Regions from separate parts of the Homo sapiens genome. Here all the other regions are linked to region 3. Evidence: fine-mapped expression QTL. A gene starts in region 3. Each other region holds a variant in brackets. All regions are shown on one strand. Distances are from middle to middle. Region 1 holds the start of BIN2 (bridging integrator 2). Region 2 overlaps BIN2 (bridging integrator 2). Region 3 holds the start of SMAGP (small cell adhesion glycoprotein). Region 4 overlaps CELA1 (chymotrypsin like elastase 1).

Region 1 (5,000 bases), 52 kb after region 3:
GGGTTGGGGGGTACTGAGAGAAACTTCCTCACCCTCCAACTCTGAAAGTGAAAAGGTGTTACCACCCTGAAACATACCCCAGTACTCTGGAGCCAAAGTAATTTGTTGCCATAAGCAACAGGTACATGTTAGGGCACTTATACTGTGTCATGGGTGTTCTTCCCAACGAAAGACCCTTGAGGGAACAGGGTGTACAGATGCTAAACAGATGTTTGTTGAAACAATGAATAAATTCTACTTTTGGATCACTTCCTAATGAAAACCCATATAATGCTAATCCCTAAAATCCTGCTTTGAGAATTCTGTCCCAATTTATCTGGCCTGGCAGCTAAATTAGAATATAGATATTTAAGGAGAAAGAGCAAGAGCAAGGCAAAAAAGTAAATGTGGCAAAACGTTAACACTTGGTGAATCTGCATGAAAAATATTCCAGTGTTCATTGATTATTTATAACTTTTCTGTAGATCAGGGTTGGGGTGGAAATAGAGCTTTAAAAAAAATTACTACATATATCTTTGGTGGCTATAGTTCCCTACCATTGCCTCTCCCATAATCATTTATTATATTTTAGTTAATTCCCTCAATTGGGGTAATTTGCATAGGGCCTGGATATTTGATATTATAAAATTTTGCTAAAATTTTTTCTTAGGTGCAGTAAATTTTTGTGGTTATGTAGGAAATCTTTCTCTTTCCTTCCTTCCTTCCTTTTCTCCCTCTCTTTCTTTCTTACTTTCGAGACAGAGTCTAGCTCTATTGCCCAGGCTGGAGTGCAGTGGCACAATCTCAGCTCACTGCAACCTCCACCTCCCAGATTCAAGCGATTCTCCTGCCTCAGCCTCCAAGCAGCCAGGACTACAGGTGTGCACCACTAGGCTAATTTTTGTATTTTTTGGTAGAGATGGGATTTCGCCACATTGGCCAGCCTGGTCTCGAACTCCTGGGATTTCGCCACATTGGCCAGCCTGGTCTCGAACTCCTGACCTCAGGTGATCTACCCACCTCGCCCTCCCAAAGTGTTGGGATTACAGGCATGAGCCATGGCGCTTGGCCGGAAATCTTTATTTTTAGGATATATGATAAAGTAAGCTTTCCTTAAAAGGTCCTAATATACTTTTTCCAGCCTTTGCTCTGACCACTCCCTGTGCTCCAGCTGAGCTGTAGTTCTCACTCCAGTCTCCATGCCTTGCTTATGCTGGCACTTCTCAGCTAGAATGCTCTCTGATCACGTGTCTGAAAAACTACTAATCTCCCATAATTCCTATTTCAAATTCAGCCTCCACTATAAAACCTCTCGATTCTCCCCAATCCTTTTGTCCTCTGAATAGACCTGCATCTCTCAGGTCAGTTATTTTATTATCATTATTCTTTTTTTTTTTTTTTTTTAACTAGATCTTAAGCTTTTGGCAAAGCAAGAATGTCTCTTACCCCTAAATTCCCTGCTGGGTCCAGCCCAGTACCCTGAACAAAGGAGTTTTTCTGTAAATATTTGTGGAATTTAACCCTCTGGGATTTAAGCTGAGTAGATGTCAACAGAGGAGAAGACCAACAAAGGAGTGGTAAACAACGCCCCTTCTCAGGGGGATCTGAGAGGTTTGCCACAGAGAAATCACAAACAGATGGTGAAAGCAGTACTATAGTTGGAAATGAGAAGATGTATCATACTAAAAACACACACACACACACAAACACACACACACACACTCTAAAGCCAGCTTAAATTCAGTCCCATGTTGAGTTTGGGCGGGAAATGGAAAACAGACCAAGAATGTTTCATCCCTATTGTGTTTAATGGTCACCAGACCTCCACTCCCAGCTTTTCAGAGGATGCCTGAACAAAAAGTGTTTCTACTTCTGAGCTCTGTTCCTGAGAGAGGATCAGCAGGAAGTGGGGGAGGCACAGATGTGAGAGTGGCTTATCAGGAACGTTGTAAAGCAGCAGCCTGAGTGAGGTTAGGATTCAGAGGCAGGACACCTGGGTTTCAGTAATATTTCTGCTACCTACCAATCTCTTTTGAGCCTTGTTTCCTTATTTCTAAAACAGAGATGCTAATAACCTGCTTAAAGTGTTGAATAGATGAAGGGAGATGACATCGGTAGAATGTTGGCTCCATAAAGGGAGAGAGAATCACTTTGTCTTTTTTTTTTTTGAGACAGAGTTTTGCTCTTGTTGCACAAGTTGGAGTGCAATGGCGCGATCTCGGCTCACGGCAACCTCCGCCTCCCAGGTTCAAGCGATTCTCCTGCCTCAGCCTCCTGAGTAGCTGGGATTACAGGCATGCGCCACCACACCCGGCTGATTTTGTATTTTTAGTAGAGACGGGGTTTCTCCATGTTGGTCAGGCTGGTCTCGAACTCCCGACCTCAGGAGATCCACCTGCCTGGGCCTCCCAAAGTGCTGGGATTACAGGCGTGAGCCACTGCACCCCGCTGATAATCACTTTCTTATATCCCTGTCTCTGGTCCATAATAGGCGCTTGATATTTGACACATTTCACTATTTGACACATTAGCTATTACTTATTACTCAGAAGATTACATCCAACTGCTTGCAGAAAAAGCAAAAAGTGTTGCAAGGAATTCTTTCATTTTAGTGCAAATTTCTCCCTCTTTATCTTGGTCTCAATAACTTCCCAAGACTCAAGGACTGGCTTCAGGCTGACGGAGCTGAGCTCCCTTCCGGCATCCCAGGCCATTCCCACCTTATCGAAGTTCAACCTTTGCCTACCCTTTTGTCTAGTCTAGGTTCAGAATATCTTGTTTTCTTCATCAGCTGGGAATTCCTCATGGCAGATTTGAGTTTGCTCCTCTTTCTCTACTTCCTCAGGGTTCAGGCCAGAAGAACCTGAGAGACTGGTTCTGTCTTTGGGAAGTATTTGACTCTGAGTCTAATGTGACAGCTTTTCAATTTAGTGTTCTTACCATATTGAGTTTCATCAAGAACATCAACCCTCTCATTTTACAGGTGCAAGATCTGAAGCCCAGAGCAGGACATTATTTAGCCAAGGTTTGGAGTCTATGCTTA[CAAAGGAGTG/C]AAAGCCCAAAGCAAGGTTTTAGTGTTGACGAGAGGCTAGATGAAGACAGAAGATGCAAGAGTGAAATACAATCAATTGTATGTCTTTTATTTTTATGTATTTATTTTTATTTTTTGAGACAGAGTCTCCCTCTGCTTGAGTGTGGTGTGGTGTGATCACTGCTCACTGCAGTCTTGATCTCCTGGGCTCAAGCAGTCCTCCCACCTTGGCCTCCCAAAGTGCTGGGATTACAGGAGTGAGCCACTGTGCCTGGCTGGTATGTCTTTTTAAAATTACTATCATTCATGAGTGTTTTGTCTTTTAGGGTTTTTTTTTTTTTCAACCACAGTGTGGCCTTCTCTCCAGTACCTCCTGCTCGCCCACACTGTTTCGAGCTAGACCTTCCCATAGGCCCTGCTCTCGGGTCTACCAGATTTGTAAGTCTTCAGAGAGGCTGAAACTAGGATCAAGGTGAAGTTAGGGTAAGTGAAGTAACGAAGTCTGGCTACACGAACTCTTTCCCTTTTCCTCCTCTCTTTCACATGACCTCAAATGATAGAAAATAACCTCCCTTCCATTGTGGTCTCTTAAAGTCAGGAGCTACATCTACATTCCATCAGTTTTCTGCTGATAAATCAACTCGGGAGAGCTGGTTGCCTTTAAGCCTTCCCAGGGCTCAAAGCAGTGCTCCACTTTTAGAAGATAATAGGGATATTTCAGTTGGTAAGCAGAGCTGTTCATCCAAATGCTTCTAAGTCCATCAGCTCTTAGAAAACCAAAACTTCTCCGTTGTAGAAGGCAGGTTGGGCTTAATAAAGAGAGAGAGAAAAAAAGGAAAACCGAAACTCTATCTCAGGTCCTTCTTGTCTTTCTTCCCTCGCTCTTTCTTCTGGCTGACATGTCTTCCCAAACCGCCTTGTCTACTAGAGGGTTGGTAGGTGGAGAGCAGAGGCTCAGGTTAGAAGCAAAGAAAATATTCTGTACAGGTAGAAACAAAAATGCCATCAAAATGTGTAGAGAATGTCCCCACAATTTAGATTGCCAAGCAAGTAATAGATGGGCAGCCCACCTAAGTGCCAGTGCTGGAGCAGGGCTACCTGACACTAACCAAGGACACACTCTGAACACAGATGTGGTTCATCACCCTGGGAGGTGTACTCCCCAACGCCAAAGGGAGGGTAGAAGAAGCAGATTTGGGCTCCTGCTTACGTCAGCTGAAACACCACCCAGAGGCCAGGCAGGGTCAGGTAGGGGGAGAACTATGCAGGATTATTCTAAGCCTTTGGTGGGGGGTGCCTGCTGGCATCCGCTGCATCGCTGTTTTTGGGGAAATTGCCCTCTATGGAAAATTACCCTCCAATTTCATCATCTGTAAAATACCAATTTTGGATTGCTAGCACAAAATTTGATACAAAGGTGGCCACCACCATCACTTCCTTTCTTTCACCTTTTCTGGGTCAGCCTGAGGGTTGTCGAAGGTTCTGCCCAGAGACTGTTGTCTCCCCAGCTTCCCTTATCCTTGCCCAAGATCGGGTGGCGGTCTCCGACCTCTCTCCAATCTGCCAGTTTTCATGGAAGCCCACTCCTCGCTCCCGTTTCCCTGGGAGAGCGGGAGACCCTTCTCGTCAGCCCAGACCCTTCGGGGCCCCTGAGCACCCTGCCCGCCCCTCCTGCCCGGCCGGGCTCGGCCTCGGCCTCGGCTCCCTGTGGGCCAGACAGACAGCGAGGCCCGGCCACCTACCTTCTCCTGGGCCCTGCTAAACTTCTTCTGCACCTGCTTGGCGAAGAGGCCGGCCGCGCCGCCTGCCTTGCCCTCTGCCATCCTGCCAACTCCCTGGGGGCCGCCGCCCTGGCCCCGCGCCCTGTGGTTTTCTGAGGCCCCCGAGGAGGAAGTGCGGGCTCCCGGCATGCCTCGCATCCGGCCCCAGCCCTGAGCCACCTCAGGCCGCCCCTGGCCAGCCCTGAGGCCCGCCCCTCAGCCCACCACTG
Region 2 (5,000 bases), 43 kb after region 3:
TGGAAGACATAGGAACATATTAGACAATATCATGGGAATTCAATCAGCAAAATATACACTGTAGGAAATTGCAGGACAAACAACCTAGTATCATTAACAAATAAGCTACAAGAAGGGAGGGATTAGAATATAGATTAAGAGATATGACCTTAAATCTAATAAACTTAAACATGTCAGTGAGTTGCTGATTTAAACAAACCATAAAAAGCATGAAGACACAATCAGGGGAATTTGGACACTGACAGGATATTTTGTGATATTAAGAAATGATTCTGGTTTTTTTAAAAGATAGCACTAAAACTTACATTTTAGTGAAATATTTAATCTGAAATATCTGAAAAGATTTGTATGACACTGGTAAGTGAAAAAGGCAAGTTGCAAAATCATATGCATGGAAGAATCTCACTTTAGTAAATCTCACATTTATTTATTGTGGATATACTTAGATATCATACACATACATAGCAAAGTAATTGTAAAGATATAAAATAACATTGTTGTAGTTTAGGAAGATGTAAAATCATAATCGTTTTGTTTATATTGTTTTCTTTTCCTTTTTTTTGAGATAGGGTCTCACTTTGTCACCCAGACTGGAGTGCAGTGGCACAAACAAAGCTCACTGTAGCCTCGACCTGAGACTCAGTCAGTCCTCTTGCCTCAGCCTCTCAAGTAGCTGAGAATACAGGAGCACACCACCATGACCAGCTAATTTTTGTATTTTTTGTAGAGATGGGGTTTTGCCATGTTGCCCAGGCTGGTCGCAAACTTCTGAGCTCAGCACTTTGGGCTGCCAAAGTGCTGGGATTATAGGTGTGGGCCACCATGTTGGGCCTATTATTAATTTTTAAATTCATTTCTTTCTTTTTTCTTTATGTAGGGGCTTTTTTTTTTTTCTTTTGAGACAGGGTCTTGCTCTGTTGCTTAGGCTGGAGTGCAGTGGCACAATCACAGCTCACTGCTCAGTAGCTGGGACCACAGACGTGCACCACCATGCCCAGCTAATTTTTCTTATTTTTTGTAGAGTTAAGGTCTCCTGTGTTGCCGGGTTTGTCTCAAACTCCTAGTCTTAGCAACCCTCCCACCTCGGCCTCCCACTGGGAGGTGTGAGCCACTGTACCCAACCATGTACTTTCTGATTTGTTGTAATGAGTACATATTTTATTTATACTTTATTCATTTTTGAGACCAGGTCTTGCTCTGCTGCCTAGGCTGGCATGCACTGGTATGATCATAGCTCACTGCAGCCTGGAATTCCTGGGGTCAAGCAATCCTCCTACCTCAGCCTCCCAGGTAGCTGGGACTACAAGCATGTGCTACCACACCTGGCTAATTTTTGTATTTTTTTGTAGAGACGGGATCTTGCTATGTTGCCCAGGCTGGTCTTGAATTCCTAGGCTCAATTGATTCTCCTGCTTTGGCCTCTCAAAGTGCTAGTATTACAGCCATAAGCCACCATGCCTGGCCAAGTAAATGTTGTATAGAAAAATATTTTGAGGTGTGATAATGGTATTGTAGTTACATTTTAAAAGAGTTCTATTTTTAGAGATTGATAATGAATTTTTTTTTTCTTTTTGAGACAGAGTATCACTCTGTCACCCAGGCTGGAGTGCAGTGGTGCGATCTTGGCTCACTGCAACTTCCGCCTCCCAGGTTCAAGCAATTCTCCTGCTTCAGCCTCCCGAATAGCTGGGATTACAGGCATGTCCTATCACGCCCAGCTAATTTTTGTATTTTTAGTAGAGATGGGGTTTTACCATGTTGGCCAGGCTGGTCTCGAACTCCTGACCTCAGGTGATCTGCCCGCCTCGGCCTCCCAAAGTGCTGGGATTATAGGCGTGAGCCACTGCACCCGGCCTGATAATGAAATTTTTATAGATGTGTCAATGTTGTTGGAATCAAAATGGAGTCACTAGTGTTAAAAAAAAATCTCTGATAATAGAGCCAGGGAAGGCTATGAAAAGAGCATTCTCATGCTTATTTGCCTGATAAGAATTATCACAAAAGATCCTATGAAAACCACAACCTTGCACAAAGGCCATCACAACCTTATACAAAAAATATTTCTGCAAGGACTTCTGCCCAGCAACTGCCTGTTCAACCTTGGACTGGTGTCACCCTTATTATTGATCTTTGTAGCCAATGATAATTATTTTCAAAGAATCATGTAATCCTTCTCATTTTTTCCTTTGAAAACATGTGTCTTCCTTTACCTCCCTGAATACCTCATAGTTTACTATGGTACACATATTCCCATTGCAATGCTCTATTCCCGCATAAATATCTTTTTCTCTTAGACAGCCTCCCTCTGTTCGTTACTTAGGTTGCCGAATGAAATGATATATCTAGAATTTGTTTCATAATAATCAAGGATAGGAGAAAGTGAGTGGGGACACAGTGAAACATGATTGCCCATGAGTGGATAAATTATGGAAGCTGAGTGATGAGTACATGTGAATTCATTTTACAAGTTTATCTGCCTTTGTACATATTTGAAATATTCCATTAAAAAAAAGTTCATCAGATCTAAGATGGTAAACCAATAACAACAACAAAAAGTTCAAAAGTAAGATTCCCAGGCCCTACTCCCAGAGAACTTGCATTTAAAAATATTTCCCAAATGATTCTGATATACACTCAGCTACTGAATTAGATGATAGCTAATAACCCATTAATATAATTTTAAAAATTATTTTCTATATAATTCAACTGATATTTATATAGTAAAGAATTTGTGGGCCAGGTGCAGTGGCTCATGCCTGTAATCCCAGCACTTCGGGAGGCCAAGGTGGGTGGATCATCTGAGGTCAGGAGTTTGAGACCAGCCTGGCCAACATGGTGAAACCCTGTCTGTACTAAAAATAAAAAGAAAAAATTAGCATAGCATGGTGGCACACACCTGTAATCTCAGCTACTCGGGAGGCTGAGGCAGGAGAATTGCCTGAACCTGGAAGGTTGAGGTTGCAGTGAGAGGAAGGAAGGAAGGAAGGAAGGAAGGAAGGAAGGAAGGCAGGAAGGCAGGCAGGCAGGCAGGCAGGGAGGGAGGGAGGGAAGGAGGGAGGGAGATTTCTCTGTTCCCAAAATGACAGTCAG[C/T]AGCAAGAAAAAAGGTAAATTCCTTTATTTTTATTTTTACTTTTTTTTTGAGATGGAGTTTCACTCTTGTCACCCAGGCTAGAGTACAATGGCAAGATCTCTGTTCACTGCAACCTCTGCCTCCCAGGTTCAAGTGATTCTCCTGCCTCAGCCTGCCGAGTAGCTGGGATTACAGGTGCACACTACCATGCCCAGCTAATTTTTTTGTATTTTTAGTACAGACGGGGTTTCATCATGTTGGCCAGGATGGTCTCAAACTCCTGACCTCAGGTGATCCGCCCGCCTCGCCCTCCCAAAGTGTTGGGATTATAGGGGTGATCCACTGCGCCTGGCTGGTAAATTCCTTTAGTTCACCGAGGAAGGATAAGCAACAGGTCACCCTGTAGCCCTTAACCCTAGGGGGAGGGTGGCTTGGTGGAGATGTTTGCCAGTTTGCAGAACTTATTGTTCTTCTGCCACTCAGCCCTCGTGTCTCCTTTCTTCTTCCAAGCTTCCCTCCCCTACCCTCCAGATTACCTGTTGTTGGTAGAAGTTGCTAGCGCTTTGTTCAAATCGTTCATCTTTGGTTTCTACAGCTTTCCCCAATTTCTGCAGCACCTAGGGATATAAGTCAGAAAGGCCCGTAAGGTTATAGTCAAGTCTCTCTTACATGTTGGCCTCATATGACCCTGGCTTCAGTCAAGAATCTCACTTACAACTCAAGGGCTGTACTTATTTATTTATTTATTTATTTATTTATTTATTTATTTATTTATTTTTGAGACGGAGTCTCACTCTGTTGCCCAGGCTGGAGTGCAGTGGCACGATCTCGGCTCACTGCAACCTTCGCCTCCCAGGTTCAAGCAATTCTCCTGCCTCAGCCTCCTGAGTAGCTGGGATTACAGGCGTGTACCACCACGCCCAGCTAATTTTTGTATTTTTAGTAGAGACGGGGTTTCACCATGTTGGCCAGGCTGATCTCGAACTCCTGACCACAAATGATCCACCCGCCTTGGCCTCGCAAAGTGCTGGGATTACAGGCGTGAGCCAACATGCCTGGCCTTGAAGGGCTGTACTCTTACTGGACCAAAAGAATTAGGAATACAACAAACTGCTGAAAAAACAATCCTGTTCTGTAGTTCTTTTCAAATTAGGGGTAGCTCTAGGGGATACGTAGTAGTGAGCTAGAGGATATATATTAATATAAAGCTCAGAAGAAATAAGGTATATCTGGCTGGGTGTGGTGGCTCACACTTGTAATCCCAGCACTTTGGGAGGCCAAGGCAGGTGGATCACCTTAAGTCGGGAGTTCGAGGCCAGGCTGACCAGCATGGATAAACCCCATCTCTACTAAAAATACAAAATTAGCTGGGCATGGTGGTGCATGCCTGTAATCCCAGCTACTGGGGAGGCTGAGGCAGGAGAATCGCTTGAACCCAGCAGGCAGAGGTTGCAGTGAGGCAAGATCGCACCATTGTACTCCAGCCTGGACAACAAGAGCGAAACTCTGTCTCAAAAAAAAAAAAAGAAAGAAATAAGGTATATCTTTCTGAATGTCATTGTTATTATTGTCATTATTTTATTTGAGACAGGGTCTTGCTCTGTTGCCCTGGCTGTAGTACAGTGGTGCAATCACAACTTACTACAGCCTCAACCTCTCTGGGCTCAAGCAATCCTCCCACCTCAGCCTCCCCAGTAGCTGGGACCACATGCTCACACCACCACACCTCACTAATTTTTAAAAATTTTCTGTAGAGACAGGGTCTCACTATGTTGCTCAGGCTGGCTGAACTCCTGGGCTCAAGTGATCCTGTTGCCTCAGCCTCCCAGAGTTCTGCAATTATAGGCATGAGCCATTAGGCTGGCTGGCATTGTTATTATTATTATTATTTTTTTTTTTTTGAGACGGAGTCTCGCTCTGTCGCCCAGGC
Region 3 (7,788 bases):
TCAAAAAAAAAAAACAACAGTAGTCCCCTCTTATCTGCGGTTTTGCTTTCCTAGGTTTCAGTTACCCGTGGTCAACTGCAGTCCGAAAACATTAAATAGAAATTTAACAGAAAAAGAAAATTCCAGAAAGGAACAATTCATACATTTTAAATTATGTACCGTTCTGAGTAGCGTGATGAAATCTCACACCCTGCTCCATCCTGCCTGGAAAGTGAATCATCCTTTTGTGTCCATGCTATAAACGCTTAGTAGAGTACCACAGCGCTTGTGTTCAAGTAACCCTTATTTTACATGACAGTGGCCCCAAAGCACAAGAATAGTGATGCAATTTGGACATGCCAACAAGAAGTGCTTCCTTTAAGTGAAAAGGTGAAAGTTCTTGACTTAAGAAAAAAAAAAAAAGAACTGTGTACTGAGGTTTCTAAGATCTATAGTAAATAAGACATTTTAAGTGAGAGAGACCATTTTCACATAACTCTTATTACAGTATATTGTTATAGTTGTTCTATTTTATTATTATTGTTAATCTCTTACTGTGCCTAATTTACAAGTTAAGCTTTATCATAAGTATGTATGTACAGGAAAAAACACAGTATAGATGGGGTTCAGTACTATCTGAGATTTCAGGCATCCACTGGGGTTTTTGGAATGAATCCCCTGTGGATAAGCGGGGACTACTCTACCACTGAATTGTCTGCGAAAAAATGGCTAAAATGGTAATACCTGTACTATGTTTATTTTACCATAAATTTTAAAAAAGAAAAAATGGCATGAGCCTGTAATCCCAGCACTTTGGGAGGCCGAGAAGGGCAGATCACTTGAGGCCAGGAGTTTGAGACCAGCCTGGCCAACATGGCGAAACCCTGTCTCCACTAAAAGTATACAAATTAGCCAGGCGTGGTAGCGCACGCCTGTAATTCCAGCTACTAGGGAGACTAAGGTGGGAGAATTGCTTGAACCCAGGGGGCGGAGGTTGCAGTGAACCGAAATTAAGCCACTGTACTCCAGCCTGGGTGACACAGCAAGACTTGGTCTCAAAAATAATAATAATAAAATTTAAAAAATGTAAACAGCTCCCCCTTGCCAAGGTTCTAATCCCTCAGCTAGCTGCCAAGGTATCACCTTTTTTCCCTTGTGGGCAGGATTATTCTGGAGGTCCTCTGCCCACCCGCTTCCTGAACATCCTCCAGGGTAAATCGTCTCTGTAGCTTCACACATGGTATGAGGTATTCTACCTTTATCTAGAGCAGGTACACACGAAAAAGGTATTCTACGTTTCTCTAAGATACCTGCTGCGCCCCTTTGCCTGTATGAACCTTGTCCGTCTTTCAAGGGCAAGACTCAGATCCCCTTCCTCACCCACCCATGAAGCCTTTGCTGACCTATTCCCCCCCCCCACTCCGTGTCCCCCTAACTCTTTTTTTTTTTTTTTAAGACAGGGTCTTGCTCTGTCACCTAGGCCGGAGTGCAGTGGCATGATCTCGGCTCATTGCAACCTCCATCTCCTGGGCTCAAGGGATCCTCCCACCTAAGCCTTTGGAGTAGCTGGAACCACAGGTGTCTACCACCAAGCCCGGCTAATTTTTAAATTTTTTTGTAGAGATGGGGTTTCGCCATGTTGCCCAGGCTGATCTCGAACTCCTGAGCTCAGTCTGCCTGCCTCAACCTCCCAGAGTGCTGGAATTACAGGCGTGAGCCACCATACCTGGCCATTTCTCTCTTTTATCTCTTCTCACCAGACAACTAAAAGTCTGAATTGTGTGCATTACCAGTCACAGAGGACACTGTCTTAGACTTCCACTGGTGGTGTCACTCACCTGTTTCCACATCAGTAAAAGCAGAGAATGCCTGTCCTAATGACAAATGTGACTGTGTATAGGAAGACAAAGGTGTATAGACCAACCAAGGGTTTGTTCCTCTCTCTCCCTAACTAGCACATGCTGAAAACAGTCAATAAATAACTGATAGTTTGTCCGGCCCAGCCTGATGATGAACTAAAAGGTGGGCATCCATTCTCAGAGTGCTGAGCAGTAGTGCCCGGCCTCCGCACACCTTCAGGGAACAATGGGGTTTTGATGCTGGGTCTGTATCACCAGAGGAGTGGAATGAGAAAGCCAGCAAAATCACTTTCAAGGGAAAGATGGGTTTCTAACAAGTACTCAGTGCTAATAACCAACGTGACTGAGTGCTTACGAGATACTACACACTCTTCTAGGTGTTTTATATGGGTTGTCTCATTTAATCTTCATAAATCATAAGATAGGTACTATTTTCCCTATTTTGTGAATGATGAAACCGGAGCTTAGAGGTTAGCAATACTATCTTTAGCAGGTTTTTAAAAAATGATTTCCCTGTTATCTTTGAAGATTCCTTTTCCACATTTAATTACAAGGGTTTCTGCTACATTCTTTGCCATAGCTATAAATTATTAGACAGATGAATGTAAAGCCCTTCCTTTAGGCTTATACAATAATCTTCCTTCCTTCCTTCCTTCCTTCCTTTCCTTTCCTCCCTCCCTTCCTATTTTTTGAGACCGGTCTCACTTTGTTGCCCAGGCTGGAGTGCAATGGCACGATCTCGGCTCACCTGTGCTTCCCAGGTTCAAGCGATTCCCATGCCTCAGCCTCCTGAGTAGTTGGGATTACAGGCGTGCACCACCACGCCTGGCTAATTTTTTTGTATTTTTAGTAGAGATGGAGTTTCACCATGTTGGCCAGGCTGGTCTCAAACTCCTGACCTCAGATGATCCGCCCACCTCGACCTCCCAAACTGCTGGCATTACAAGCATGAGCCACCACGCCCGGCCTCTTTCTTTCTTTTGAATTAGCAATGGGGTCTCACTATGTTCCCCAGGCAGGTCTCAAACACCTAGCCTCAAGAGATCCTCCTGTCTCAGTCTCCCAAAGTCCTGGGATTACCGACATAAAATTATTTGATAAACCGAGGTTACAAAGATTTGTGAAGTCACCATGTCCATGTGACTTCAGATTAAAACCGTACTAAGGGGCACACTCTAGTTCCTGCTTCCTCCCAGGCCCTTCCTGTGTGAGGCAGGCAGAGAGAGGTGGGAGTCTTCCCACCTGGGCTGAGGCTTCCAGGACTGGTCTGGGGAAGGGGATGTTGAACAATTCTTTCTCACTGGGATTAGGAAAGGCCTTCACCTACCTCTTGGAGAAGGAGTAGTCAGGAGGCTGGTCATTGTCACTAGTGGTTGAGTTTCTTGGAGAAGAGGCAGATCTGTAGGAAGAGGGGCAAAGACAGGAATGTAGCGGGTGGGCCCCTATGGCTTTGAGTCCTGGAAGTCCCAGGAAAGCCTCTGGTGCCAGGTTCTCCCAAGTCCCTTCCCCTTTTTCTCTTGTCCTCTTCTGGTTTCCCTGAATATCTCCTCAGGCTCCAGGTACCAACAGCTCTCCACAGGAGCAGGTCTGAGGCCGCATGCAGTTTGACGGGGTGTTACCTTCATACGCTCTCTCCAGGTCCTTTCAATGGGCCACCAAATTTACTTAGATCTCTCAAGGCCTGAGAAAGTCAGGCAAAGGTTCGCAAATCAGCAGCGAACCCAGTTTCGCCAAAGCGCGGTAACAGGTACCCTAGGGTTCCACAGCTAGGAGTTCTGGTGACGCCATCCACCAGGTGTCAGGAGAGGGCCGGGAAGGTCAGGACCCGCGCCCAGGCTCCAGAGCGGAGTGGGCGCAGCGCAGTAGCCGGGCCGGGACCGGGAGGCGACGGCCGTGGGCCGCCTTCTGGCTCGCCTCGGACGCTGGGACGCCGGACTGGCCGCCCCCTCCGGGCCTGCTTTCGCCGTCCAGGGCGCGGTCCGCGCACAGCCTGCCAAGCCTCACTGGGCCCCAGCCCGCGCCCCGCGCCCCGGAGATCCTCGACGCCCCTGCGAACGCGGGGTGGACGCGACGGGCTGGGTTGGTCCTCGCCCCGCGGCCCCGCCCCCGTCCCCGCCCCCGCCCCGAGCCCCCCGCGTTACCAGCACCCCGCGGAGCGCGCTGCGCTGGGGGCGGCCGGTGCGTCGGGGAGCGGCGTTCCCAGCCGCCGCGACCCTCTGCCCCAGCGGAGCGCTGAGCTTCGGCCGCTCCGGGTTTCGGTTCCTGCCACGGCCGAGGTGGCTGCGGCGAATGTGGGCGACCCGGCTCTCCGGCGCCCCCGCCCTTCCCTCGTGCTCACCTTTCCAGTCGGACGGGCTGCTGGTGAAGGGCCGGCGCCGCTCCGCGCGTCCTTTTGAACTCAACGGGGGCGGGCACCGCGGAGTCGCGGAGGCCAGCAGAGGCCGAACGAGGACCCCGAGCGGAGGAAGCCGCGGGTGGCGCGCGGGGTTGGCGCAGAGGCCGGAGGGGGTGGGGGGCAGGCCGACGGGGTGGGACAGGAAAAGCGGAGAGAAACCGCCCTCTGCAGGTCCCCTTGGCTCCCCCGGGAGGAAAGGCAGCCTGCCCTTCTCCGATTGTCACTTTACTCTCCATCCGGAGCCGCTTCCTTTCTCGCCGCGAGGCTCGGGGTTGGGGGGGGACCAGATTGGAGCCGCGGGCTAACTGGGATCCGTCCCATTTCCCTGGGCTTGACGTTCTCTGAATTTTTAGCTAATGTGGAAAGTTACATTTATTTGCATTTGTTTATCGCTTGCTCACATAGGTCTGTGTCCTGAAGCTTGGCAGATGAGCGAACTTAGCCAGCACACCCCCGGCCGTGAAGCAGGGAGGTGAAGCGGGGAGAGCAACGAGCCCCACCCGGGTCTTGCCAGCTGGACGTTCTTGTGGGGCAGCGTTGAGCAGCGGTTAGGAGTGCCGTGGACTTTGGATTCAAACAGCCCCAGCTCTTCTGCTTGCTAGCTGGGTGACTTTGGGCAAATTAACATCTCGAAAATCTGTTTCCTCATTCCTAAAATGCGGGTCTGAAAGTGATCATGCCTGTAAAGCCATCTCATATCCATGGTTCTAGAAGCATGGTGAGCACCTCAATTTGAATAATCAGTGCCATGCTTTAGCTACCTCTTGACTCACTCGTTTGTGGCAGGAAATGTTCCCAAATTAATCAGAAGAATTCAGTGACTAAGAGGATGTAATAGTATATAGCGCAGGCACTGGAATCAGCTCTGCTGTGTGATCTTGGACAAGCTGCTTCTGTTCCGTTTCTCTTATCTGGGGCAATACCTGTCTGAATAGAGTGACTGTTGGGACGAAATAGGTTAGTAAATATGTACTGTAAGGCATTAGAACCTTGCCTGGCACATAGTAAGTGCTCAATAAACGCTAGGTCTTGTTACCTTGGCTTCCCGTTTAGGATTGGAACCCTTGTGATTATTCTTTCCCTCCCAGTGATAGACTTCTGTGCTTACTTCGCACTCCTAGGCGTTCTGTAGGTTTGTAAACCAGTATTTATACAGAAATACTTTCTGTAGAAAGACAGGCATCATCAGATTGTGCATGTTAATCCGGGAACAGACCGAAAGGGAAGGTCTCAGAGGAGAGAGGCATAAAGGGAGAAAACAAAACAAAGTCACAAGCAAAGCAAGAGTAGTTGCTTTTATTCCTAAAGTGTTCATTATAAAAGAAACCAGAGGGCAGGGCACTGTGGCTCCCAGCACTTTGGGAGGCGGGTGGATCACTTGAGGTCAGTAGTTTGAGACCAGTCTGGCCAACAAGGTGAAACCCTGTCTCTACTAAAAATACAAAATCCGCTGGGCGTGGTGGCACACACCTGTAATCCCTGCTACTCTGGAGGCTGAGGCACGAGAATTGCTTGAACCTGGGAGGCAGAGGTTGCAGTGAGGCGAGATCACACCATTGCACTCCAGCCTGGGCAACAACAGCAAAACTCCGTCTCAAAAGAAAAAAACAAACACAAATACAGGAGGAAAACAAACAATAAAAAAGTGATGAAATTCATTTTATATAAATATATTGTGAGAAATATATGTAAATATGTGCATGGGAAAATGCCAATCCAACCAAGAAAGGCAAAGAAAGTGATATGCCAGCTATGCATATGTAACTTAATAAAAGAAAGGTGAGCCTGGCTTGTCCTTAGATAAGAGAATATCCAAGAGAAAAGGAAATTAAAATCCTAGAGGGCTAAATCCAAAGGAGGACAATTGCTGGCATTGACATACTTCTAGCTGTCCACCTTGATCATGAATTCCAGGAGAAGTTCAGATCGTTCTTGGACCTGGGTCTGTCTCTTTCACATTTTCTATTATGTGTTGAAGATTGTTTAGAACTATAGACTCAGCCAGGCGCGGTGGCTCACACTTGTAATCCCAGCACTTTGGGAGGCCGAGGCGGGTGGATCACAAGGTCAGGAGTTCAAGACCAGCCTGGCCAACACAGTGAAACCCTGTCTCTACTAAAAATATAAAAATTAGCTGGACGTGGTGGCAGGCGCCTGTAATCCGAGCTAATGGGGAGGCTGAGGCAGGAGAATCGCTTGAACCCGGGAGGCGGAGGTTGCAGTGAGCCGAGATTGTGCCACTGCACTCCAGCCTGGGCGACAAAAAAAAAAGAAAAAAAGAACTACAGACTCAGAGGCTATCTGGCTCAACTGACTGACTCTACTGATTTGCTGTCACTTTCACAATTTCGACAGTTGTTAGTAATGTTCTTTCAATAAGCATCTTTTTTTTCTCTTTAAAATGTAACTGGTGGGGCGCAGTGGCTCACGCCTGTAATCTCAGCACTTTGGGAGGCCAAGGCAGGCAGATCACCTGAGGTCAGGAGTTCGAGATCAGCCTGGCCAACATGGCGAAACCACGTCTCTACTAAAAATACAAAAATTAGCTGAGTGTGGTGGCGGGAGCCTGTAATCCCAGCTACTTCGGAGTCTGAGGCAGGAGAACCTTTTTGCACCCTGGAGGTGGAGGTTGCAGTGAGCCGAGATTGCACCAACGCACTCCAGCCTGGGCAACAGAGTGAGACTCTGACTCAAAAAAAAAAAAAAACAAGTAACCTTACACCTATAATCCCAGCACTTTGGGAGGCCACAGTGGGCAGATCACTTAAGCCTAGGAGTTTGAGACCAGCCTGGGCAACATGTTGAAACACTGTCTCTACAAAATACAAAAAAAGTTAGACAGGAGTCGTGGCATGCACCTGTGGTCCCAGCTAGTCAGGAGGCTGAGGTGGGAGGATCACTTGAGCCCTGGGGGTGAAGGCTGCACTCCAGCCTGGGAGATATAGCAAGATCCTTTCCCCTCAACCAAAAAAAAGTAACCTTAGGGAGGGAGGTGGGGATGATTAATGGGTACAAAAAAAAAAAAAAAAAGAATAAGACCTTAAGACCTACTATTTGGTAGCACAACAGGGTGACTATAAATAATAACTTAATTGTACATTTAAAAATAACTAAAATAGTGTAATTGGATTGTTTTTAACACAAAAGATAAATGCTTAAGGGGATGGATACTCCATTCTCCATGATATGATTTTATTATGCATTGCATGCTTATATCAAAACATCTCATGAGGCCGGGCATGGTGGCTCACACCTGTAATCCCAGCACTTTGGCAGGCGGATCACAAAGTCAGGAGATCAAGACCATCCTGGCTAACATGGTGAAACCCCGTCTCTACTAAAAATACAAAAAATTAGGCAGGCGTGGTGGCAGGCACCTGTAGTCCCAGCTACTGGGGAGGCTGAGGCAGGAGAATGGCATGAACCCGGGAGGCAGAGCTTGCAGTGAGCTGAGACTGTGCCACTGCACTCCAGCCTGGGCAACAGAGCAAGACTCTGTCTCAAAAAAAAAAAAACAAAAAAACTCATGTACCCCATAAATATATATACCTCCTA
Region 4 (7,788 bases), 68 kb after region 3:
TACTTTATTTCCATGGTTCTTTGTACTCATACACACAAAAAACTTTTTAATCCTTTTTTTTTTCTTTGAGACAGAGTCTTGCTCTGTTGCCCAGGCTGGAGTGCAGTGGCACGATTTCAGCTCACTGCAAGCTCCACCTCCCCGGTTCACACCATTCTCCTTCCTCAGCCTCCCGAGTAGCTGGGACTACAGGCACCCGCCACCACACCCGGCTAATTTTTTTGTATTTTTAGTAGAGACGGGGTTTCACCGTGTTAGCCAGGATGGTCTCGATCTCCTGACCTCGTGATCCGCCTGCCTTGGCCTCCCAAAGTGCTGGGATTACAGGCATGAGCCACTGCGCCTGGCCTAATCCTTTCATTTTTTATAGTTTCAGCCAGCCTGCCAGCTTCTCTCTCTCCTCCATCTAGTTTGGACCTTGCAGTTGATCTGCAATCCTGTCCTTTTACCCCAATCATGCAGGAAACCGTCTTTGAGTAAAACAGAGTGAATCATATATCCATGTGGTCGTAGTCTGGTCTCCAAACAGCCAGTCAGCAACATCTTGGAGGACTGTCCTCCCATTCACACTAACTAGTCCAGACCCATACAACCCTTTCCCCTTCATTTTCAGCAGTCAAGTTGACTCCTCCTAGTTCATGAGTAACTAGAAGCAATAATGTAGAACACCTGCCAACGTTCGGCTACCAAATCCAGCAAACTTTTCTATGTCTGTGTGCACATCTGGTATCCCTCTTCCTGTTCAGAGCCAGCTCCACCTGTGCTCTTAGTTCCATCTCTTTCTTCTGTGGGATCTTGTGCCATCCATTATTATTATTACCTCTGTCTGACTCTACAGGATTCTTTCCTCTCTGCCTATTTATGCACTCAATTTTCTTTTCTCTTTTTTTGAGACGGAGTCTCACTCTGTCACCCAGGCTGGAGTGCGGTGGTGCGATCTTGGCTCACTGCAACCTCTGCCTCCTAGGTTCGAGCAATTCTCCTGCCTCAGCCTCCTGAGTAGCTAGGATTACAGGCACGCGCCACCATGCCTGGCTACTTTTTTGTATTTTTAGTAGATGGTGTTTCACCATGCTGGCCAGGCTGGTCTCGAACTCCTGACCTTGTGATCTGCCCGCCATAGCCTCCCAAAGCACTGATATTACAGGCGGGAGCCACCGCGCCCGGCCAATTTTCTTCTCTTAGAAGATCCACTCCCTCCATGACTTGCTGTCCTTAAAGCTACCAGACTTTTTTTGTTCTTCCTTTTTTTTTTTTTTTGTCCTCTTTTGAGACAGGGTCTCACTCTGTTGCCCAGGCCGGAGTGCCGTGGTGCGATCATAGCTCACTGCAGCCTCGAACTCCTTGGCTCAAGTGATCTTCCCACCTCAGCCTTCCAAGTAGCTGGGGTTACAGGTGCACGCCACCACATCCAGCTAATTTTTAAAATTTTCATAGAGATGAAGTCTCCCTACATTTCCCAGGCTGGTCTCTAACTCCTGGGCTCAAGCGATCCTCCTGCCTCAATCTGCCAAAATCTTGGGATTACAGGCATGAGCTACTACACCCGGCTGGTTATATGTCTTATTGCCTCTTTATTTCTTACCCTTCGGACAAGCTTCTGCCCTCACCACTCCACTGAAACTGCTCTTGCCAAGGTTACAATTGCCAAAGTGGCCACTTTCAGCTCTTACCTACTGTGGCTTCTGGGTGAATTGTATATTATGTGATATCTGTAAGTACTTCCTGAGATTTCATAATATCCTTATTACCAGGTTTTTATCTTACATCTACTTCTCCTTTCTTAGATCCTAGTGGTTTCTTTATCCTCCACTTATCCCTGAAACACTCAAGTATTTATGTTCTGACAGTTCTTTCCCAACCCACTGCTCTTTTCTCATTGAACAGTTTTTCCCTGGAATGGGATCTGATTTGTTCTCAGTAGGTATCTCTAGCCCAGCTCTTCCCCCAGGCCCCACTTTTTCTATCTAATTTCTTGGCCAGGCGTGGTGGCTCATGCCTGTAATCCCAGCACTTTGGGAGGCTGAGGTCAGGAGTTCGAGACTTAGCCTGGCCAACATGGGGAAACCCCGTCTCTACTAAAAATACAAAAATTAGCCAGGTGTTGTGGCACATGCCTGTAATCCCGGCTACTTAGGAACCTGAGGTAGTAGAATCACTTGAGCCCGTGAGACAGAGGGGGCAGTGAGCTGAGATCGCGCTACTGCACTCCAGCCTGGGTGAGAGAGGGAGACTCCGTCTCAAACAAAACAAAAAAAACACCAAATTTCTTACTGGTTGCTATACCTGAATGTCCCACTGGGATCTCAGACAAAGGTTGTCCAGAACCAAACTCATCATCTTCTCTCTCAAACTCTGTAAATCTTGTCTCAGGGCAACAGTGCCCTCCCCCAAATCACTTAAACCAGATGCTTGGCTGTTGTTCCAGATCCTCCTCCTTCCCTCCTCCGGTTCCTATCACCACTGCCTTAATTCAGGCCCTCAAATTTCTTGCTTAGATCATTGCAATAGCCCTCTAGGCAATCTCCCTGCCTCTCTTGTCTTCTTCAAAAACATGCCTAAAGAACAATTCTAAAAGGTGAATCTGGTTGTGCTAGTCTCCTGTTTAGAAGTCTTTGATGGCTTCCCAATGCCCAAGAGATAAGGTTCATGTCCCCAAGCCTGGCATTTGAAGCCCTGAGTTGTACAGCTCTTGCTTGCCTCTCTAGTCTTACCTCCTGACATTTCCTAGTATGGTGGTAGCTTCTATTCTAGCCCACGGGTCAGCAAACCTCTTCTGTTAAGGGCCAAACAGTACATATTTCAGGCTTTGCAGGCCATACCGTCTTGATTGCAACTACTTTGTGTTGTACTACAAAAGCAGCCATAGGCTGGGCATGGTGCCTCACGCCTATAATCCCAGCACTCCAGGAGGCCAAGGCAGGAGGATTGCTTGAGGCCAGGAGTTCAAGACCAGCCTGGGCATCATAGTGAAACCTTGTCACTACCAAAAACAAAACAAAATTAGCTGGGTGTGATGGCATGTGCCTGTGATCCTAGCTACTTGGGAGGCTGAGGTGGGAGGATCATTTGAGCCCAGGAAGTTGAGGCTGCAGTGAGCCAAGATGGCACCACTGCACTCCAGCCTGAGTGACAGAGCAAGACCTTATCTCTTCAAAAAAAAAAAAAAAAAAAAAAAGCAGCCATAAACAGTTTGTAAATGAGCAACTGTGACTGTGTTCCAGTGAAATGTTATTTATGGGCACTGAAATTTTATATATTCTTCATGTGTCATGACATATTATTATTCTGATTTTTTTTCCTTACCATTAATAAATGTAATAATTCCAGCCTGGGCAACATGGTGAAACCCTGTCTCTACAAAAAATACAAAAAATTAGCTGGGTATGGTGGTATGTGCCTGTAGTCCCAGCTACTAGGGAGGCTGAGGTGGGAAAATCACTTGAGCCTGGGAGGCAGAGGTTACAAGTGAACCATGATGGTACAACTGAACTCCAGCCTGGGCAACAGAGTGAGACGCTGTCTCAAAAAAAAAACAAATATATATATATATGTATATGGCCAGGCGCGGTGGCTCATGCCTGTAATCCCAGCACTTTGGGAGGCAGAGGCAGGTGGATCACGAGGTCAGGAGTCCGAGACCAGCCAGTTCGAGACCAGCCTTGCAAACATGGT[G/A]AAATCCTGTCTCTACTAAAAATACAAAAATTAGCAGATGTGGTGGTGCGTGCCTGTAATCCCAGCTACTCGGGAGGCTGAGGCAGAAGAATTGCTTGAACCCGGGAGGCAGAGGTTTCAGTGAGCTGAGATTGCGCCACTGCACTCCAGTCTGGGCGACAGAGTGAGACTCCATCTCAGGAAAAAAAAAAAACATACACACACACACACACACACACACACACACACATACACATACGCATACATATATATATATATATATAGAAATCAAAATGTAATAACTGTTCTAAGCTCATGGGCCATATAAAACAAGCAGTGAGCTAGATTCGGCTTGTGGACCTCCAGCCGCTGCTCTACTCTAGCCTTAGGGAATGCCCCATAATTCTGTATGTACTCTAGGTTGTTTCTTGGCCCCCTGCCTTTATTCATGCCGTTCCCTCCCTCTGAATGTCTTTTCTCCTTTTTGCCTGGCCTATTCCTATTTGCCCCTCAGGACCCACTACAAATTCTAGTTTCTTGGGGAAGGAAAGTCTTTTCTGGCCCCAGTAGGTAGAGGTAGGTACCTACCCTTGGGCTTCCATATCACCTGTGCACATCCTGATTATTAACACTTAACCACATTGTATTACAATGTTCTATTGTATGTCTGTGCCTCTGGTTTCTTTACTTGACACTGTTTGATCCATCTTTGTAACCTTAGCACTTAGCACAATGCCTGGCATATAGTAGATATATAATGAATAGTTGTTAAACTGCATTAAGAAATCTGGGGTGGGGCATGGTGGCTCACGCCTGTATTCCCAGCACTTTGGGAGGCCAATGTGGGAGGATCACTTGAGCCCTGGAGTCTGAGACCAGCCTGGGCCACAAAGCAAGACCCCATCTCTATATTAAAATAATAATAATAAAAAAAGCTTAAAAAGAGAAATCTGTAAGATAGTTTATGGCTGATTGATCTTGTCAAAATAGAGGAAGGTTATATTTGTTATATATAAGCTATTATAAAATTATTTTGTGCACTTTCCCCTATCAAACTCACCTGTACATACTGCCAGAAATATCACTGGGGTAAAGGGATGGTGGTAGAGGAACTGCAAGAGAAGTAGGACTGATAGGTAAGAGGGAGCAGGGTACTGCTTATACAGCATCACAACCACCTGTCCAGGCTCAGCTGCATCGCTGCCATTAAAAAATCTAGGTAACAAATTTGGCTGGGCATGGTGGCTCACGCCTGTAGTCCCAGCACTTTGGGAGGCCAAGGCGGGTGGATCACCTGAGGTCGGGAGTTCGAGATCAGCCTGAGCAACATGGAGAAACCCTGTCTCTACTAAAAATACAAAAAATTAGCCGGGCGTGGTGGTGCATGCCTGTAATCCCAGCTACTTGGGAGGCTGAGGCAGGAGAATTGCTTGAACCCAGAGGCGGAGGTTGCAGTGAGCCGAGATCGTCCCATTGCACTCCAGTCTGGGCAACAAGAGCAAAACTCCATCTCAAAAAAAAAATCTAGGTAACAAATTCTAAGAACACACACATATACCAACAACAACATATAAATGTTGGGCCACGTACAAACTTTGAAGTGAGGGCATCGAGCAAGATCAATTTTAAGGTTCCTTTCAACTTTGAGTTTCTGCATGTGTAGAATTACCAGCACAGGATCATTCTCACTTAGACGCCAGAGTAGAAAATTGAGTCTGTGTAGGACTAAGAGTAAGTGTCGAATAGGGAGGTGAGGAAGAGGGGTGGAGGGATAGGCAGAGAGTGGCGGGACCTGGGGTGGGACCCCCTGCAAATGTTCACCTGGCATCCAGAGCGAACTCCATCTCCACCAGCACACACCATGGTGTTCTTCACAGTGGAGCCCCAGTAGGAGGAGCTGGAGCAGATGGCGTAGTCCACAGAGGGCAGGTAAGCCTGCTGCAGGGTCTGGGCCAGCTGCCCATTGGCTGAACAGGACACACGGCATTGGCAGTCAGCTCCAGATGTGGTCCAGCAGAAAAACCTTCCACCCCTGCCACACCTTCCCAAACTCTCGTGAAAGCTGAGCTCAGGGCAAACTCCTTCTCTCTCCCTGTTGCATGTGGTGGATCCTCTGTCTTCTCTCTTTATATGGCCGCACAGGACCCTTCCCTCAGGGAGGCAGCCTTGCTTACTGTACCTAGGCTCCAAGCCACCAACCCTACTCCTGCTTCTTTTCACTCGTGGATAACTTAGTTGCACCATGGAATGGCCTTATTTGTGGATGATTTATCTGTCTGTTCTGTTTGCTCCTGCAAGCTCCATGGAGCAGAAATGGGATTGTGCATGCTTGTTTCCATTTCTTTCTTTCTTTTTTTTTTTTTTTTTTGAGATGGAGTTTCACTCTTGTTGCCCAGGCTGGAGTGCAATGGAGCAATCTCGGCTCACCACAACCTCCGCCTCCCAGGTTCAAGAGATTCTCCTGCCTCAGCCTGCCGAGTAGCTGGGATTAAAGGCATGCACCACCATGCCTGGCTAATTTTGTATTTTTAGTAGAGATGGGGTTTCTCCATGTTGGTCAGGCTTAAGCGATCCTCCTTCCTCAGCCTCCTGAGTACCTGGGACTACAGACTCATGCCACCACACTCAGCTAAGGATCCTTAATTTCTCTGGACCTTGGTTTCCTCATGTATAAAATGAAGGGCTGGCTGGCTGCAGTGGCACATGCCTGTAATCCCAGCACTTTGGGAGGCCAAGGTGGGAGGATTTCTTAAGCTCAGGAGTTCGAGGCCAGCCTAGGCAATATAGCGAGATCCCATCTCTACAAAAAAATTTAAAAATTAGCTGAGTGTGGTGGTACATGCCTATAGTCTCAGCTACTCAGGAGGCTGAGGTGGGAGGATCACTTGAGCCCAGGAAGTGGAGGTTGCAGCCTGGGTGACAGAGCAAAACCCTGTCTCTAAATAAATAAATAAATTTTAAAAATGAGGGGCTGGTAAAAAAAATTCTCTGATAAAGTCTTTTTTTGTTCTAAGAGTCCATGAATCTGTCAACTACTTCACAGCCCATTCTTAGCTTGATATAATGCATCAGTTATTGTATCTATGGTTCTTTTAGCTCCTGGTCTCTGGCCATAAGCACCTAGGACCACAGAAAAAGGTGTCTTAGAAGCTCAGCTACCTAATCAAGATCCCCGTGGTGGATTGTGCCAATGTAGGCAACTTACTCTTGGTCTTGCCCCAGCCTGTGATGTAGCAGGGACTGTTGTTAGCCAGGATGGCTCCCTCCTGGGGCAGAACACCCAGCTGGACATAGCTATTGAGGGTAACGCTCTGGGCCAGGCGCAGCAGGGCGATGTCATAGCTGCAGGAGAAAAGGAGACTGCTCACTCATGGGATCAGCTCTTCCCTGAGGTCAGCATATACACTGGCCCTCTCTAAGCATTTGTATCCCCGTGGAATTGGAAAGTGACGACTTTGAAGAAGGACGGGGCTCACTTGCTAAGCCTCAAACTAGAGCAATTACAATTTAACATGTAAACATTCTATGTTTAACAGCAGCATCTGCTGGTGGGACATTGGTATTGCAGCCTAGCTCTGACCTTTGCAACCCCGGGAAGTAGAGAATGGGGGAATCTGAAAGGAGCAGAGTGGCATGATCTTGGTGGCAGAGTTCTCAAACAAGAAAAATGTAAAAGGCTGAGTGGCTCTACAAGCTCAGTAGAATATCCCAATTCCTTGAACCCACCCCCACCTGCACATGCTATAGAATTGACCACCGTTTTAATTATTTATTTTCCAGAAGTTTACAACTCAACTTGCAATTTTCCCGTGTAAGATTCACTTTAGGAAATTTACTTTTGCTGATGGAGTCTATTCTATAATGTGAATAATAAATAATGATAAAACCCCCCATAGAAACAGAACATTAAAATCTGCAGAGAATGGTAATCCACTGTGCAAACCAGCCTGGATCCAACAAATCCTAAAGGTCTTCAAAGACTCTCAAGCCCTCCAGAACGTCAGTTCTCTTTTTCTTATGAGACAGAGTCTCACTCTGTCACCCAGGCTGGAGTGCAGTGGCGCGATCTCAGCTCACTGCACCCTCTTCCTCCTGGGTTCAAGTGATTCTCCTGTAATCAAGCGATTACAGGCA

What was found. PIP is the estimated chance that this variant, and not a neighbour inherited with it, causes the effect.
Region 1: its variant is fine-mapped to the expression of SMAGP in whole blood (TOPMed, PIP above 0.99).
Region 2: its variant is fine-mapped to the expression of SMAGP in whole blood (TOPMed, PIP above 0.99).
Region 4: its variant is fine-mapped to the expression of SMAGP in whole blood (TOPMed, PIP above 0.99).

What each region holds. Positions count from the first base shown.
Region 1 is chr12:51,319,270-51,324,269 of GRCh38, forward strand. BIN2 (bridging integrator 2) reads right to left here and starts at 4,905. Exons shown (of 13, transcript NM_016293.4): 1 at 4,753-4,905. The coding sequence starts at 4,833. LOC105369767 (a long non-coding RNA gene) reads right to left here and starts at 4,739. Exons shown (of 2, transcript XR_944957.3): 1 at 4,459-4,739; 2 at 3,099-3,934. RefSeq lists enhancers at 1-125, 4,431-4,620 and silencers at 1,376-1,670, 4,651-5,000. The variant CAAAGGAGTG/C (reference allele first, on the strand shown) is at 3,023.
Region 2 is chr12:51,310,217-51,315,216 of GRCh38, forward strand. It overlaps BIN2 (bridging integrator 2), which reads right to left. Exons shown (of 13, transcript NM_016293.4): 2 at 3,607-3,687. Among named protein-coding and RNA genes, the nearest start is that of BIN2, 11 kb to the right of the region's middle. The variant C/T (reference allele first, on the strand shown) is at 3,091.
Region 3 is chr12:51,266,080-51,273,867 of GRCh38, forward strand. It overlaps SMAGP (small cell adhesion glycoprotein), which reads right to left and starts at 4,336. Exons shown (of 4, transcript NM_001031628.2): 1 at 4,177-4,336; 2 at 3,166-3,237. The coding sequence starts at 3,199. RefSeq lists silencers at 3,605-4,274, 4,315-4,394 and an enhancer at 4,010-4,510.
Region 4 is chr12:51,334,385-51,342,172 of GRCh38, forward strand. CELA1 (chymotrypsin like elastase 1) reads right to left here. Exons shown (of 8, transcript NM_001971.6): 5 at 6,860-6,996; 6 at 5,476-5,621. Among named protein-coding and RNA genes, the nearest start is that of CELA1, 8.4 kb to the right of the region's middle. The variant G/A (reference allele first, on the strand shown) is at 3,676.